2 separate regions of the Homo sapiens genome follow, and region 1 is linked to region 2. A link means that fine-mapping ties the variant in region 2 to the expression of a gene that starts in the linked region. Tissue or cell type: whole blood. Region 2 holds a variant in brackets; the other region holds the start of a gene. Each region is shown on its reference strand, or each on the opposite one.

The links. PIP is the estimated chance that this variant, and not a neighbour inherited with it, causes the effect. A credible set is the group of variants that fine-mapping cannot tell apart.
Region 1: MPO starts here. The variant in region 2 is the best candidate, but not a certain one, in a credible set for the expression of MPO in whole blood (TOPMed, PIP 0.87).

What each region holds. Positions count from the first base shown.
Region 1 is chr17:58,278,709-58,283,072 of GRCh38, forward strand. MPO (myeloperoxidase) reads right to left here and starts at 2,227. Exons shown (of 12, transcript NM_000250.2): 1 at 1,897-2,227; 2 at 1,658-1,751; 3 at 1,131-1,306; 4 at 815-938; 5 at 589-718; 6 at 300-506. The coding sequence starts at 2,050. RefSeq lists enhancers at 1-575, 3,160-3,177 and promoters at 2,217-2,811, 2,217-2,357, 2,750-3,151, 3,036-3,261, 3,307-3,507.
Region 2 is chr19:833,860-838,234 of GRCh38, forward strand. No RefSeq gene overlaps it. Among named protein-coding and RNA genes, the nearest start is that of PRTN3, 5.0 kb to the right of the region's middle. The variant C/T (reference allele first, on the strand shown) is at 2,795.

The DNA of each region.
Region 1 (4,364 bases), not on the chromosome of region 2:
TAACAAAGAGCCAGTGATTCCACCAACAGGACTCCTGTCAGCCAAGGAGGAACAACCCTCTCTCCCTTGGCCTGCCAGAGGCAGTGAGCAAATGGACGGCCCTGGCTGCCAGCTGGCTGAGCCCAGGCGCAGGAAGGAGACAGGTCATAGCTGAGCAGCCAGTGCTGTGGACACAAGGGAGGCAGGGCCAGCCTTCCTCAGCGTCTGGGAAAGGAAACCTGGGCACAGAAGGGAGATGGCCCCTTCCAGAAACAATCTCCCCTCTCCCAACCCAGGCAGTGGGCGGGAAGCAGGGCCACCTTGAGCGGGAAGCAGGGCGGCTGCTGAACGCAGCTGGTCTCGCAGTTGACGCCAGTGACGAAGGAGGCCCGGGCGGCCGGCTCAGGGGTGAAGTCGAGGTCGTGGTCCAACAGCTGGCCCCATTGCATGAACATGAGTGAGCGCTCCTGGTCCGGAGTCAGCTGATCAGTGGGGAAGCGCACGATCTCGTTGGAGACCGCGCGAGCCTGCGGGACACGGAGATCAGCTGGCGCCTGGGTCCGCGCACCGCGTGGCCGGGCCTCGCCCCCTCTGCCCGCCGGCGCTCACCAGAGCCACCGGGAAGCCGTTGCGCTTGACCCCGGGCGTCCAGCCGTAGGGAAGAGAGAAGCCGTCCTCATACTCCGCCGGCAGCCAGCGCACAAAGGCACGGTTGGAGGCCCCCAGCGTGGGGCTGCGTCTGCAGGGGAGGACAGGGCGCTGACACCGGGAGGCTTGTGGCGTCCGGGACGCCTCTCTGAGCCCGGTTCCTGCAGCCACCCCCAGCCAGCCGCACCTGTTGTTGCACATCCCGGTGATGGTGCGGTATTTGTCCTGCTCCGGGCAAGTCACCCCCACGTCCTGGTAGGCGCAGCCGCTTGACTTGGACAACACATTCAGCTGGGCGGGCGTCAGCACATCTGCCGGGGGAAAGAACAATGGGGGAGCTGAGCCGCCTCACTTCCTATCCCAGGCAACCTGAGGCTGAGGAGCCCTGGAGACTCCTGAGACTCCCTGGAGGAAGAAGTTGAGGGGATCACTGAGAGACGGCTGGGGTCCCTAGGAGGAGTCACTAGTGGAGCAGGGACCTGGGGTGTGATGGGCAACAGTACCAGTGACATTGAATGGCCTTCGCCACAGGGACCGCAGCTTCCTCTCCAGCAGGTCTAGAGCCACGTGCAGGTAGTCAGCGGCCCTCACCGCCGTCCTGGTGGCTGCCACCGGCTGCTTGAAGTAGGATAGGAGTTCCATGGGGCTGGCTGAGCCGCTGCGAAGCCGCTGCTTGATGCTGCTTGGAGAAAGGAGGAGTGAGGGCCAGAGAAGGGATACAGACCCACCCAGCAGAGCCCCAGCCCAGGGGCAGACATGCAGGACCATGCAGGCAGGCCCACGGGTGGGAGGAAGGCTTCCTTTTATAAAAAGGATATGGACCTGGGTGTCCAGACAGAGGCAAGGCTTTGGGAAGGATGGCTTTTAAGCTGTTCTCCCATCCAGAAACACAGGGACAGACAGACAGAAAGGGAGTCCACATGGGTCCCCATAGTCCCCCTCTCCCACCTTCAAGCTCCCTGCTGCCTGCTGCTTCTCTGAAAGGCCTGGGACATCCTTGCCCAGAGCTGGGCAGTGCCTCGTGCCCCACCTTTCCCGCCGCTCCTTGTAGGCCTTGTCCACCAGCTGCTTGGCCTCCTCCATGGAGCTCAGCACCAACGAGGTGTCCACCTCCCCCAGGACAGCTGCCCAGAGCAGGGATCACAAAGTCAGGAATGGGCCCCAACCCCCTATCAGGCCCCAGAGCTAGGAAGGCCTGCTCTGAGAAAAGGGGTCTCTGGAACACAACCACCCCAACACACCATCTTCTCCCACCTTGGGAACTGTTACCTGGAGCAGCACCTTCAGAGGGCTGGGGCGTGGCCAGAATGGCCAGGAGCCCTGCTAGGGCCAGAAGCAGCTTCATCTCTGCAGTGAGACCCCCAGCCCAGCAAGGTCCTAAGTCCACCATGCATCTGAGAGAAGAGAAGAAGGGAACCCCCATCTCTCTTCTCCTGGGCTGCTCAATCCCCCTTTGTACCTCAGCCCCACCTCAGAGGGCCCTGTCTATGGATAAAGCCAGACCTCCTTGAGGGAGGGGCTCACTGCTCTCTTATCCCCTTGCCAGCTGCTGTCATCCAGCTTCCAAGGACCCCACCTCCACAGCTCACCTGATATTGTCAGCTCCTCTTAGCTCAATCTGCGCTTTTATGTCCTCTAAGCTGGGGGTGGGGTGAGGTAGAGGAAGGTCTGATCCTGGAGACTGAACTCTTTCTCCTCCCCCACTGGGGTTGGAAGGTACACACAGAGGGGCCCCTGAAATGGGGGGAAGGGGCAGGAAAGGAGGGGCCAGCATTGTCCCCAGCCTTTTTTTTTTTTTTTTTTGAGACGTTATCTTGCTCTGTTGCCCAGGCTGATGTGCAATGGTTCAAGCGATTCTTCTGCCTCAGCCTCCCGAGTAGCTGGGATTACAGGTGCCCGCCACCACGCCCTAGCCTCTAGCCACATCATCAATTATTTCCTTAGGCAAGAAGTAATTTTTGTATTTTTCCTTAGGCAAGAAGCTAATTTTTGTATTTTTAGTAGATACAGGGTTTCACCATGTTGGCCAGGCTGGTCTTGAACTCCTGACCTCAAGTGATCCACCCGCCTCAGCCTCCCAAAGTGCTGGGATTACAGGCATGAGCCACTGGCCCCAGCCTGTCCCCAGCCTTTGAATTTAGCACTACCAGCCCAAGATTTCTCAGCTCACCATTGTGTGCCTATACCAGTGCTTGTCCCCAGGGGATACACACAACTAACCCCTCTGAAATTCTGGTTACACTGGTTATCCAGGGTTCCTTTGAAAGGAACAAAAGTCAGGAACTGGTAGCCCAAGGAATTGCAGGGAATAGAGTGCCCCCAGGGAAGACAGGAGGATGAAAGGGAGACCTGGAGTAAAGATGACCCAATTGGCCTCAGGTGGCCATCCCCCACTCCAACAGTAACCTGCATCCAACAGCCACCCAATGGGCAGCCTCTGGTTCTTGGTGGGGCTAAGGGGACAGGAAATCTGGCTGGAGACCGTTGGGCTTCACAGGAAGGAGGACCCTGGGGACTGTGGGCGCAGGACCAAGATAACTTCCTCTATCCCTCCTCACTCCCCTTTCTTCTTGGCTTCTGGTAGAGGGCTGTCTCCAAACTCCTCCTCCCCACCACCATCTGCTCCTGGATTTCAGGAACCAGGAGAGAGCAGAACTGGTTGTGGTTAGTGATCAGTTAGGTGATGCAGCCCAGGGCCTCTCTGGGACAGGATCAGTGCAGTTGGGAGGACTTGGGTTAATGATTCAGAATAATTCTGAAACAGAAGAGGATATTTCTTGCTTGAGAAAGCCCAGCAAAAGGGCCACCAATCTCAGCAGGAAAAGTACTACGACTTTTGACTGAATCAGTCTACCTCTCTGGGCCCTGGTCAGGCTGAGCTCGTGCCAACCATGCCTCCCATGTCCCATTTAGGTTCCCCCTCCTACCTTCAGCCACCTTCCCGCCACCCACTCTTTTTTTTTTTTTTTTTTTTTGAGACAGGGTCTCTCACTGTTGGCGGAGCTGGAGTACAGTGGTGCAATCTCGGCTCACTGCAACCTCTGCCTCCTGGGTTCAAGCAATTCTCCTGCCTCAGCCTCCCAAGTAGCTGGGATTACAGGCGCCCGCCACCATGCCCGGCTAATATTTTGTATTTTTAGTAGAGATGGGGTTTCAACATGTTGGCCAGGCTGGTCTCAAACTCCTGACCTCCTCCTGATCCACCCACTGTTGGGATTACAGGCGTGAGCCACCGCGCCCGGCCCACTCTTGTCTTCTATGCCCAGACCACCTCTTGGCCAAGGGACAAGGGACAGCAACACCCAGAATATCTTCCCAGTGTGTCCAGGGATTCTGTCCCCTGCTGAGAAGGGGAACCAAGCTTTTGCCCTGCCAGTGACTTGCTGTGTGTGAAGTTGGTCGAGTGGCTCTTTGTGAATCAAGCTCTAGAATTTTAGAGGCTTTTGGAAATGATTTTTCAATCCTTTAAGTAATATAATTTTCACTGATGAAAAGTTTGAGAACACGAGTATGCAAAAATAAAAATAAATCAAAATTACTCATCATCAAGTGAGATTGTGGGTACTTTTTTCTTTCAAGGTTTATCATTGTCTTCACATAAATAAACAATAGGAAGGAAAATAATTGCCCATAATCCCACCACTCACCAATACCTCATTTAAGAATTTGATATCCTATATGTAAACATAATATATATTTTTAAATATTGATAAGAAGAACTTTAAATATTGTTTTAC
Region 2 (4,375 bases):
TCTTTTAAAGTGTGTACAGCCGGGCGTGGTGGCCCACACCTATAATCCCAGCACTTTGGGAGGCCGAGGCTGGCAAATCACCTGAGGTCAGGAGTTTGAGACCAGCCTGCCCAACATGGTGAAACCCTGTCTGTACTAAAAATACAAAAAATTAGCCTGGCATGGTGGCATGCACCTGTAATCTCAGCTAGTCGGGAGGCTGAGGCAGGAGAGTGGCATGAACCCGGGAGGCGGAGCTTGCAGTGAGCCAAGATTGAGCCACCGCACTGCAGGCTAGGGGATAGAGTGAGACTCTGTCTCAATAAAATAAAAAATAAAATAAAATAAAATGAAGTGTGCAATTCAATGGTCTTCGGTACACTCACAATGTTGTGTGGTCATGACCTCTGTTGAGTTCCAGAATATTTCATCACCGCCAAAGGAATCCCTGTCCCCATCAGCCGTCACTCCCTGTCCCCTCCCCAGTCCGCGGCACCCACGCGTCCTCTTCCTGTCTCTGTGGATGGGCTTGTCCTGGACATTTCATAGCAATGGGATCACACACTATGTGGTCTTTCGTGTCCGGCGTCTCTCACGGAGCGTGACGTCCTCACGGTGCCTCCGCGCCGTGGTCGGGTCACAGCTGGGTCCGTTTCACGGCTGCGTCCTGTTGCCACGCCTGGAGGCCTCACTGTGCTGCTCGAGGCCCCTGTGGATGGACGTCTGAGCCTCTCCACTTCCGGCCACTGTGACCCTCACTGCTGTGGACACTCATGTGCAGGTTTGTGTTGGAACTGCTGCTTTTCTTTCTTTTGTGGGTATAACGGGTCCTTTTTTTTTTTTTTTTTTGAGACGGAGTCTCGCTCTGTCGCCCAGGCTGGAGTCCAGTGGCGCGATCTCGGCTCACTGCAACCTCCACCTCCCGGGTTCACGCCATTCTCCTGCCTCAGCCTCCCGAGTAGCTGGGACTACAGGCACCCGCCACCGTGCCCGGCTAATTTTTTGTATTTTTAGTAGAGACGGGGTTTCACCGTGTTAGCCAGGATGGTCTCGATCTCCTGACCTCGTGATCCGCCCGCCTCAGCCTCCCAAAGTGCTGGGATGACAGGCGTGAGCCACCGCGCCCGGCCAACGGGTTCTCTTTACAGAGGGGGAAACTAAGCCTAGAGAGGGGTGCCAATGGCTCAGGAGCCCAGCCGGTGGGGGCCCTGCCTGGGTTTGGAGAGGCAAAGCCACTGCCTGATCATTGTTCAGATGGGGAAACTGAGGCCCAAGGCAGGATTGGGGTTCAAGGGCTTCTGGTGCCCCCGGCTCGGGGCCACGTTCGGTCATGAGGGTCCCCCTGCTGGGGCGGGATTCCTGCCAGAGGCGGTTTCTGCCCTCCTCCCCCCAGCCCCTGCTGCTCCCCCTTCCTGGGCCCAAGGGTGCTGTTCTCGGGTTCCCCTGGTAGCGGTCAGCCCGGCTGCAGGGCCCTCAGAGCGGGGCTGCGTGTGACTGTGGGCAGCCCGAGTCCTCTCCGCGCCTCGGATTTCAGGGACATAGAACGGGGTCCCATCCGTGGACCCACCCGCCACCCCGCAGCCCCGTCCAGGCCCCGACGCGTGCAGCCCCCACCCCGCAGCCCCGTCCAGGCCCCGACGCGTGCGTGCAGCCCCCACCCCGCAGCCCCGTCCAGGCCCCGACGCGTGCAGCCTCCTGGCAGAGCCAGCTGTGCTCAGGCTAAAAACAGCTGTTCTGTTTCTTCTCTGTGCCCCTCTACCCGGCCCCACTCACTGGTGTCTTGAGAAGGTTTTTAAATTTTCGGAATTCTCAGAACAGATTGTGAAATGTCTGGGTTTGGCTTAGAAATCCCGTGAGAGGGGGCATCAGGGGACAGGTGGGTGGATGGGCCTGGGGGGTGTGGAAGGCGGCCGGGTGTCAGGGCCCCAAGCACACGGGAAGGTCAACGGTCGGCACAAAACACACACAAAACACAACCACTGCGAGGCTGAGCCTCGCGGGCGAACCAGCATCTTCCCGTCACTCAGGGAGAGAAGGTTTTCCTTTATAAAGAGGAGAGGAAAGGAGGCCGGGCACAGTGGCTCACGCCTGTCATCCCAGCACTTTGGGAGGCCGAGGCGGGTGGATCACCTGAGGTCAGGAGTTCGAGACCAGCCTGGCCAACATGGTGAAACCTCGTCTCTACTAAAAATACAAAAATTAGCTGGGTGTGGTGGTGGGCGCCTGTAATCCCAGCTATTCAGGAGGCTGAGGCAGGAGAATCGCTTGTACCCAGGAGGCGGAGCTTGCAGTGAGCCGAGATCGCGCCACTGCACTCCAGCCTGGGCAACAGAGCAAGACTTCATCTCAAAAAAAAAAAGAAAGAAAGAAAGAAAAAGAAAGTAGTAGAGGAGAGAAAAAAGAGAGAACAAGAAAGATGGAGAGACAGAGACGGACAGAGACACAGAGACAGAGAGAGACGGAAAAAGAGGGACAGAGCCAGAGAGACTGAGAGAGATAGTTTTAAAAAAGGGAGACAGCGATGACACAGAGAGACACAGACACAGACACAGAGATGAAGAGACAGACAGATATAGGGAGACAGAGACAGACTGAGACAGAGAGACAGAGACAGAGGGAGACAGAGACAGAGACAGAGAAGGAGACAGAAAGAGGGCGGGGAGAGAGACAGAGACAGAGACACAGGCCTGAGCCCCGCATGGGTCTCCCCTCGGCCCCAGGCGGCGTCACCTGCGATCCCTGAAGCCGTTACCAGTTGCGCCACCTACGGTTGGTACAGGAAGGGGCCCCCACTACCTCTGCCCCCAGGCCGACC[C/T]CTGCAAAGCCCCCAGCGTGTTCCACGGAACCCTCCCTGCTACCCGCTCCCAGCGCTCCTGTCGCCCTGGCCTGTGCTTTTGAGTCCCCCCAGGACGCACAGGGAGCCTGGAGGACCCGGGGCCCGCGGGACGGTGCTGGGACCCTCCGGTCAGGACCGGGCTGCATCAGCCTTGCGTGGAAACAGATCCTGACGGGGAAGCCCACGTACAGTGAGGACGGGGCAGCCCCCTGGGCAGCTCTCGCGTGTGCTAGATCCAGCAGTGTGTGTGCAAGGTCTTTCTTTTCTTTCTTTTCTTTTTTTTTTGGTTGACAGCTTTATTGAGATGTCCTTCACACACACCAAGCAATTCACCCACTTAACAATTCGGTAGTGGCCAGATGGTGGGGGAGGATCGCTGGAGCCCAGGAGTTCCAGACGAGCCTGGGCAGCATAGCAAGACCCCTCTCTATTAAAAAAAAAAAAAGGCAGGGCGCGGTGGCTCACGCCTGTAATCCCAGCACTTTGGGAGGCTGAGGCCGGCGGATCACCTGAGGTCAGGAGTTCGAGACCAGCCTGGCCAACATGGTGAAATCCCGTCTCTACTACAAATACAAAAAACAAATTATTCAGGCGTGGTGGCAGGTGCCTGTAATCCCAGCTACTTAGGAGGCTGACGCAGGAGAATGGCTTGAACCCAGGAAGCCAAGGTCACACCACTGCACTCCAGCCTGGGTGACAAGAACAAAACTCCATGTAAAAACAAATCAAGAAACCTCAAATCCGTCGACCCCCACTGCTGCCCTGCAGAAGGTCCTATTACCGTCCTCACCCGCCTTTACAGGTGGGGAAACTGAGGACTGCAAGCCAAACAGCTTGCCTCAGCATGAGCTGACTCATGGCTGAAACCAACAGCACTTTTGTTGAATGAGAATAACCCTTTTATTTTGAGACGGTGTCTCGCTCTGTTGCCCAGGCTGGAGTGCAGTGACGCGATCTCAGCTCACTGCCCCCTCCACCTCCCGGGTTCAAGTAATTCTCCTCCCTCAGCCTCCCAAGTAGCTGGGATTACAGGCATCTGCCACCACACCCAGCTAATTTTTGTATTTTTAGTAGAGTCGGGGTTTCACCATGTTGCCCAGGCTGGTCTTGAACTCCTGACCTTGTGATCCATCTGCCTCAGCCTCCCAAAGTGCTGGGATTACAGGCAACAGCCACCGCGCCCGGCCACAGCTCTAGTTCTTTTTCTTTTTTTTTTTTTTGAGACGGAGTCTCGCTCTGTCGCCCAGGCTGGAGTGCAGTGGCACAATCTCTGCTCACTGCAAGCTCCGCCTCCCGGGTTCACGCCATTCTCCTGCCTCAGCCTCCCGAGTAGCTGGGACTACAGGCGCCCGCTACCACGCCCGGCTAATTTTTTGTATTTTTAGTAGAAACGGGGTTTCACCGTGTTAGCCAGGATGGTCTCGATCTCCTGACCTCGTGATCCGCCCGCCTCGGCCTCCCAAAGTGCTGGGATTACAGGCGTGAGCCACCGCGCCCGGCCCACAGCTCTAGTTCTTTAATACACATCAGGTCGGTCATGGTGGCTCATGCCTGTGATCC